2 linked regions of the Homo sapiens genome follow. The protein of the gene in region 1 purifies or fractionates together with the protein of each later gene. This does not show direct contact. Each region holds a gene or a part of one and is shown on either strand. Other genes may lie near its edges. The genes, in order: REG4 and RNF123.

Region 1 (4,506 bases):
TATAACTTACCCTTAACTGATGATTTAAGTATGGGTTATAATCATATGGAATTGAGTTTTGTTGGATTCTAGAGCCCTTGAATTTTTTAGTACCTATCTTTGTTTTTCATCTCCATGTTTAAAAACCTATTTCCTGCAGTTCCTAAATGTTTTTGTGGGCAAATGGATGACTGTCTCACATGGGCTGTGTGAACACTGGCTGTGGCTCAGTTCCAGCTACGTGATGGATACTCACCACCCAGGACTCCTGTTTTGGCCAGGCAGCTCAGCAATAGGAGCAGCCGCATGCTTCTGGAAGCCATCTTCCTCCTACCCTGAGGATGTAGCTAGTGCAAGGATCTCAGAGACCTTACTAGCGCTTCTTTGAAACTCCTGGGTTCTCCTTGATCTGCAAATCTGAACACATTTGCACAGGTGAGAAGGACCCAGGAATCTAGATGCCAACTAATACATATGGAGGAAAATAATACAATATTTTCCTGGCTAAATCCAGACTTTATAATGAAGGGAATCTCAAGTTAGATGTACAGGTTAGAAAATTTTAAGAGATTTTGTTCTTACCTGCAAGACCTCCTGGGCCAGTGCCAGAGATCTAACTATAGCAGGCTGAACAGTTTCATAGTCTGCATGGAGGCAATTTGTAAACCACCGAGCACTCGCCCCTGTTAGCTTCAGGAGGGCCAGCAGAGGGCGCCCAAGGCAAGCTTCCTCACAGGTAAGACGGATATGGGCATTCTGTTGTCAAGAAAATCCAATAGAATGGCTCCGACATTGAATTTTTAAATGTTAAAATTAAACGTGAGCACAGTGTCCAATACCCACATTTTACAGATGAGAAAACCTGAGGTCAGTAAGTATGAAGTCATTTGTTCATGGACACCAGCTATAAGCAGATCTGACTCCATCAGCACTCTTTCCTTTACACTTAGTTGACATCATTTTTAAAAATAAAGAACATGGCTTTATCTTTTCCCCATTAGCAAACAACACATGAGCTATTAGAAAATCAATGCAAAACTAGAAAATAAGAAGTAAATCCCATCTCCAGGAGATAATTTGGTGAGTAGCCTACAGATATCTTTCTATGCACCTCTCTCTGTGTACAATTTTATAAAAATAAGATCATATAGTCCTATAGCCTGGTTTTGTTTCTCAGAAACAGATTAATTGTAATACATTGTCTTGCACTCACATAACTTTCATGCATTTTTTATTTTTTCTTTAGTATAAATTCTCATATATAGGGTTGTGGCATCACACAACATGCACATTGTCATTTTAATACCCTTTGTTAAAATGTATGGGCTGTGATATTTACCTCATTAATAGGGCACTAAAAGGATTGGTTCCCTAAGCTCCCAGAGAATGCTTAATTTTGTCAAGTTTTTGGCTAATTTTGGTATATTAAAGAAGAACCTTAGTGTTTTAAAATATTTTATAATTACTAATGAAGTTGAACATCTTTTTATATAATGATTTGCTTTTAGTATTTGGTGAATTTTCATTTTACAGTTTTGCACATTTTTCTATTTCATTGTTTGTGAGATCTTTTTTGTATGTTTATTTGTGAGATCTTTTTTGTATGTTTATTGCCTTTCACGTGTTACTAATAGTATTTCTCAGTTTGTATTTTTCTCTTACTTATTATAATTTTTGCCATTCTGAAATTTTCAAAAATATTGTTATTTTTTATGTTTTTAAAAATAATTTTTAAATTTATATCAAAAGACTGGCCATTACTGTCACATAAGGTTAAAATATTTATCACTGTTCTATTTTCATCTGTCTGGGCTTTGTTTTAACATAAGTATGAAACTGAGTTCTGGATTTCCCTCCCAAATAATTCTTAAAATGAGTTAATTCATTGAATTCACATTTAATCATACTTTATGATTAAAAAATCTGAATATACAATCTAACTCTCAAATAATGGATTGCTTAAAGAGAATAATGTAAATGATGACTTTTCTGGAAAATCAATTCTGGGGTCCATCTGAACACTTTAAGGCAACATTAACTGAGAATGAGACAAAGCTTGGAGAGTGTGGATGTGACCTTCCCCACCCCTTACTTCTTTTTAAATCATTGCGTGAACCTTGCACTTTGCTAAACTTTCCTTCCAAAAGTAATAGTGTATTTTCAATGTCCTCAAACCCCTTTAAAACGCAAACAGAATTTCTCTGTCAAGGTGACCATCTGGGGGAAGGGAGAGGCAGCATCTTTTTTACTAATCTGTGAATAATTTTTAGTGAACTGATATTCATTGAATGTCTGCATGTCATGTTCATAAGTAAGCTGCACTGGGCCGGGTGTGGTGGCTCATGGCTGAAATCCCAGCACTTTGAGAGGCTGAGGCAGGTGGATCACCTGAGGTCAGGAGTTCAAGACCAGCCTGGCCAACATGGCACAACCCTGTCTCTATTAAAAAATACAAAAATTAGCTGGGCGTGGTGGCAAGTGCCTGTAATCACAGCTACTCAGGAGGCTGAGGCAGGAGAATCACTTGAACCTGGGAGGCAGAAGTTGCAGTGAGCCAAGATTGCACCATTGCTCTCCAGCCTGGGAGACAGAGCAAGACTCCATAAAAAAACAAAAACAAAAACAAAAACAGAAACAAAAACAAAAAACCTGCACTGTAGATCTCATGAATGCATGTTACAAATGAAGACACTGACACTTATGATTGAGTAACTTTTCTAAAGTTTCCCAGCTACCAGACTGCAGAGCCAAGATTTAACCCAACAGCTTGACACCAAAGCCAATGCTCTTTGCAGTGAAGGAAGAAAAGAAGGTAAATAATTTAAATCAAACAACACAGCAACAGAAAGCCTGACAAGCCTCACTAGAAATACAATTTGTCATTTCTGGCCTGGCTAATAGCTGACAGAGGAAAACAGATGTTTAAAGAAAGTCCCCCATCATCAACCGCGAGGAGGATTACCTGTTTGGCAACCAAGACTCTAAGGGCCCCTGCCTTCTTCAGTGTCTCCAGTGGTCCCAGTCAACGTTTCTGGAGCTTTTATATCTTCTTGCCTCAGGAATTAATAATCTTTACTTTAGTCACAAAGCGATAATATTATTTGAGAAAAACAATCCATCCATAAAAGTCTTATCTACAGTGAAAAAAATGAATCATATAAGAGACGGCTTCAGAATGTACGTAAGGTGTGCTTTGACTAGCCAGGAAAAGAACCTCTCCCTGTGTGCAAACAGAATCTTTTCTTCACATCACGTTATTAAAACTGACAACATCCTGTAATCTGTTATAAGCCCATCTTCCTCTCCCCTTATGTTACTTTTTCATGGCTGTCTTTTTATGCCTTGGTATGGTGGATTTCCTTTATTTCTCTTTTATTTCTAGAAGGATTTTCTGTCAGGGTCAGGAATAGGTTATGACCCATGCGGTGAGACTTGAGACCCACACACAGATTTTCCTTCCTAAAGCACCGACTCCACTCCTTCAACATGCGTGAGTTTCCTCAGAGATCTACTATTTGAGCTTCTCCCGCAGAACATGGATGATCATGTCAAAATAGCTTACATCAACAGAGTGTGTTACAATAACGGGTTTTCAGTGAAGTCATCAAATAAGATGCCAACAAAATCCTTGTGAGCAGCATAGGACACATATCCCCATTACACACTCAAGAAACCCAACCTTAAGAGAGATTAGAAACCTTCCGAGGTTCACAACACTGGTCAGCAGTGGACCTGGACACTGAACCTTGTCCTTCTGACTCCAAATATAGGTGTTTGCCAAAATACAGTTCTACTGAAAAATAGGCTATTTGAAAAGAGTAACAAGATTTTCTTTTCCAGTATAGATGGCAAAGGGTTAGGTTGTAGGTGCCAGAGATGACTCAACTTTAAACTACAGATTTAAGTCTGTAAAGGACCTTTATGTCTGGAAACTTTAAGTCTGGAAGGGACCATAGTAGTTATCAAATCTTACTCTTTTGTTCTACTGGTGAGGAAATTGAGGCCTAGAGAAACATTGTGACTAGTTTAATGCACAGACAGTTGTGGGTGAAGCTGATATCAGAAGCCAGCTTCCTTGCTCCCAGCTCACTGTTGTTTGGAAAATGCTACTCAACCTTTGTTATTAGATTTTTGCATCAGTTGTGTAAATTCATGGTAGGACATGAGAAAGTAATGCTTTCATGGTTCACAAAGAACATTTTAAAGAATCTCTCCCATCAGAATGTTTGACACAAACCTCTTTCTCTTTAGGCAGCTGGATGGGAATCATCATTGCTTCATGGCACAATGGCGTACAAAGATGTTAACTCCAAGCCTTTCAATTTCAGAAGTCCTGGTCCAGATGTAAGACAGAAAAGTTTTAACAAAATGGGTGATTAGATAGATCTCCTGTGTTTCCAGCAGCCATCCCAACCCTTAGTCTGCTATCCCCATGCCATTATCCAGATTTAAAGACTTGAGATGAGAGAGAAGAGAGTAGAACAGATTAGAAAACAAGATGTTCATAGGACTTTTAAGAGGTCTCTT
Region 2 (3,812 bases), on another chromosome or scaffold:
GCTCTCCTTGTCCAACAGCCGCCCCTCCTGTGTGGAGGGGGAGGAGGGAGAAGTGTGAGGGGCAGGAGGCTGTGGAAGCCCCCCACCCCGCCTGGCCCAGACCCCAGCTCACCACAGGGTCCAGCTCCACACTCAGCACTGCCCGGAAGCAGCCCAGCAACCTCTGTGCCCGCACCAGGTCAGCACTCGGTGGGTCCTGCAGGGGCCGGTAGCCTGCCACTGGGTAGGTGCCAGAGTTAAGCCAGCAACGCCTTATCTGTGGCTCAGACATGCCTACTCCCTCTCCACTGCCCACCCCCCACCCCGGGGCCTGGGCTCTAGGGCAGGGCTGGTTTGCATCACAACTTGCCCACTTATTCTCCCTAGGGAGGATGCTTCACATTCCTCATCTGTTCAGTGGAGACAAGGGCACCCAACCAACCAGGCTGCTGCGAGGAAAGTTTTCTTCGACACTCTACATGGCCCCCCACTAACTCTGCAGCAGCCAGGGCCTGCCACCAGCCCATGGCACCCCTGGGGTAGGGAGCCCCTCATCCCAGCCTCCCCAAGAGCTTCTGAGCAGCCCACAGCCATCTTCACAAAATGATATCGCAGAGGACGGCTGCCAAAGTTGAAGGCCACGGACTCCTTGAAAGAGAGGCTGATGGCTGGGAAGTAGGCCATACCCAGGCCCCTGGACAGGTTCTCAAAGGCAGTGCCCAGTGATACACCGTTCCTGGGGAGAAGGGTGGGTCTGTGAGCCAGTGCTAAGCATGTGGCTGCCCACCCTCAGGCTATCAAACTCAGTCTGGCCCCTTACAGGGCCCAGGAAACTGGGGGCAGTCTGGGGAGGCCCCAGGGGCCAGGCCTGTGCATAGAGATAGGAAACTCACAGGCAGAAGGACAGAGTGCCATCATCCAGGTCAATCAGGCAGCTCACGATGTCCCCCGCTGCCCACGCCTGCCATGAGAGGAGGCCTCACCAGATGCACAGAAGCCCAGCAGCCTGCTGACTCTGAACCCCAGCTGCGTTTCCAGAACCACCCAAGGGAGACTAGCCACAAGGACAAAGGACCTGGGTCCCTGACCCTTCCCTGGTGCCCTGTAGTCCCTTATGGCTGCCCAGTGGCTCCAAATAAGCTGTAGTAACAGTCATGGGGCGGATGACCCACAGGGGCTTGGCTCTCACCTTGCCATAATTCGTTGTGGTCACATTCCACTTGCGCACGCGGTTGCCATCATAGGCATAGGAGTTGTGTGTATCTCCAACCCCCTCCTAGGGAGGAAATGCCTATGAGGTCCCTGGTGAGGCAGGCAGGGTCTGGGCCAGAGCCCACCAATCACCAGCCTTGGATGCATATGGCTCTACAGAAGGGAACAGATGATCTGAGGGAAAGAGTAAGAGGTATTCTCTGAGCTGGGGTGCCTGGGATTGGGTGGGACACGTTTCTTCTCCAGAGGGCAGTCCAGGTTAGTTAGGGTCCTAGGCAGTTCTGAGGGGATCTGGAGACCTGATGAGGCCTGTGGCAGGAGAAGCTCTCCCTGGGCCCAGGGAGGGGTCCCCTCCCCAACGTGTACCTCCTGGTTGAAGCGGCAGCTGATGGTGCACCAGCCGATCTGCATGAGCCCCTGGGAGGAGATGAGGACCTCGTAGAGCCATTTCCCTGGAAAGAGCTGAGTTAGGGCCACGAGGTGGACAAAGACTGCCTCTTGCCTCATGCCTGGGCCCTTAAACTTTCTCCTCACTACCTAGGCCACAGCAGGGTAAGGTCTCACCTTTGTACACGCATGTGGTAGAGCGGATGGTGCCAAAGTTGCTGTGTCCAATCACCTGGGTGAAGAAGAGGGGTGGTGGGCTAGCTCCCAGGCACACAGAGCATCTCCCCAAGGGAAAAAGACCCCATCCCCAACTGAGCCAGCCCTGGTGGTATTTGCCTGTGGCGGCCAACACTGCACTGTGCCTGAGGACGGTGGGAGCGGGTAGGCTTGTATCAGGAAGGATCCTGGGCCAAGGCAGGATGAGAGAGGGACTCAGGGCTGTGCTGGGAAGGGCTGGGGGCTGAGTCCACATCAAGACTGTTTCAGGGCTTTAGTGGGAGAGTTTGAGGACTGAGAACACAATGGTCTGGGGCCACGTCAGGACAAGTTTTGGCTGCAGCCCCATCAGATGAGTAGAGAGACTAGGGCCACATCAGGAGGAGCCTGGGGCTATGTCAGAAGGGGCTGGACCTGGGTCTCCACACCTCACCCTCACTCACCCCCAGCAGGTCATCATCCACCAGGAGAAGCCCCTCAAAGCCGCCTGTGTGGTCCAGGACCACAGTGGATGGGCCAAGCCGCCCTTCAACCTGTCCTGAAAAGAGGAGAGGTGGGGTCAGGCAGGGTGGAGCATTTGACAGGATGCATAGGGTGTCCTGAGCTCACCAGACGTCTCCAGGCCCGCTACGTCCCAGCTCTGCACCTCCCAACCCCACTCCAGAGGTGGCCACATACCCTGGCTTTCCTCCTCCTCATTGTCCACCTGTAGCAACTGGTCCAAATGTTCTGGCAGGTTCTGGAAGTTCAGGGGTTTCCTGGGGAGAGTGAGAGGCTGCCAGGGGTCCACAAGTCCTTGAAATCAGCCAGATGACACTAAATCCCATCCTTTCCCCTGAGCTCACAGGGGGGCTGCCTAGACTCCAGAAAAAGGGCTGTGCCTAGTCCTAGACTCTGGCATGCAGGAGGTCAGAAGGCCGAATTCTCCACTAAACTCAAAAGTATAACCAGTCCAGGCCGGGTGTGGTGGCCCATGCCTGTAATCCCAGCACTTTGGGAGGCCGAGGCGGGCAGATCACCTGAGGTCAGGAGTTCGAGACCAGCCTGGCCACATGGTGAAACCCCATCCCTACTAAAAATACAAAAATTAGCTGAGTGTGGTGGCGCATGCGTATAATCCCAGCTACTCGGGAGACAGAGGCAGGAGAATAGCTTGAACCTTGGTGGGGCAGAGGTTGTAGTAAGCCAAGATCGTGTCATTGTACTTCAGCCCGGGCAACAAGAGTAAGACTCTGTCTCAAAAAAAAAAAAAAAAAAAGTATGTGGCCAGGTGCGGTGGCTCATGCCTGTAATCCCAGCACTTTGGGAGGCTGAGGCGGGCAGATCACGAGGTCAGTAGTTCAAGACCAGCCTGGCCAACATGGTGAAATTGCGACTCTACTAAAAATGCTGGGCGCGGTGGCATGTGCCTGTAATACCAGCTACTTGGGAGGCGGAGGCAGGAGAATTGCTTGAACCTGGGAGGCGGAGGTTGCAGTGAGCCATGATCGTGCCACTGCACTCTAGTCTGGGTGACAGAGCAAGACTCTGTCTCAAAAAAAAAAAAAAAAAGTAGCCCTCTCTAAGTCTTAATTCCTTCATCTGTAAAAACAGAATAGTGACTTATGTTAGAGATGCTGTGAAGAGCCCAGGGAATAACAAGTGCTGTCTGCATAGCACATAACCTGTCCGCTCTCAAAGGTGGCTGTGCTGATGATGTCTGGAAGAAGAAGGCTGGGAGAAATGCTGGTTCCCAAAGTGGTCAGTACCAAGGCCACCTAGTCCAACCCTTGCCCCTAGGCCTGTGGTTCCTTTGGGGCAGATTCCAGTCTCGCCACCACCCAGCCAGGGGAGTCTGTGTTGAATGGGACATGTTCTGGAAGTATGAAAGGCTCAGCCCTCTGAGCTGCTGGATGGCTCTGTCCTGTACCCGCCAGTCCATAAATGGTCAGCGGAGCACATGACCCACCTACCCGAGCCAAAGGAGTTGGGAAAAATCTGTCTGGGTGGCCCCCTCATCCTCTCAACACACAGGCCTA

Evidence for each region.
Region 2: the proteins of REG4 (region 1) and RNF123 purify together in Homo sapiens (affinity purification with mass spectrometry; 2 studies listed by BioGRID and IntAct, with this or other methods). This does not show direct contact.

The regions. Positions count from the first base shown.
Region 1 is NC_000001.11:119,808,468-119,812,973, forward strand, and holds the start of REG4 (regenerating islet-derived protein 4 isoform 1 precursor), read right to left. Parts: upstream 2,994-4,506; 5' UTR 2,942-2,993; intron 736-2,941; exon of another isoform or gene 562-735; intron 397-561; 5' UTR 303-396; coding exon 236-302; intron 1-235. UniProt on the Homo sapiens protein: Calcium-independent lectin displaying mannose-binding specificity and able to maintain carbohydrate recognition activity in an acidic environment. May be involved in inflammatory and metaplastic responses of the gastrointestinal epithelium.
Region 2 is NC_000003.12:49,695,883-49,699,694, reverse strand, and holds part of RNF123 (E3 ubiquitin-protein ligase RNF123), read right to left. Parts: intron 2,553-3,812; coding exon 2,473-2,552; intron 2,333-2,472; coding exon 2,238-2,332; intron 1,811-2,237; coding exon 1,756-1,810; intron 1,644-1,755; coding exon 1,558-1,643; intron 1,256-1,557; coding exon 1,169-1,255; intron 941-1,168; coding exon 873-940; intron 716-872; coding exon 590-715; intron 228-589; coding exon 113-227; intron 28-112; coding exon 1-27. UniProt on the Homo sapiens protein: Catalytic subunit of the KPC complex that acts as E3 ubiquitin-protein ligase. Promotes the ubiquitination and proteasome-mediated degradation of CDKN1B which is the cyclin-dependent kinase inhibitor at the G0-G1 transition of the cell cycle.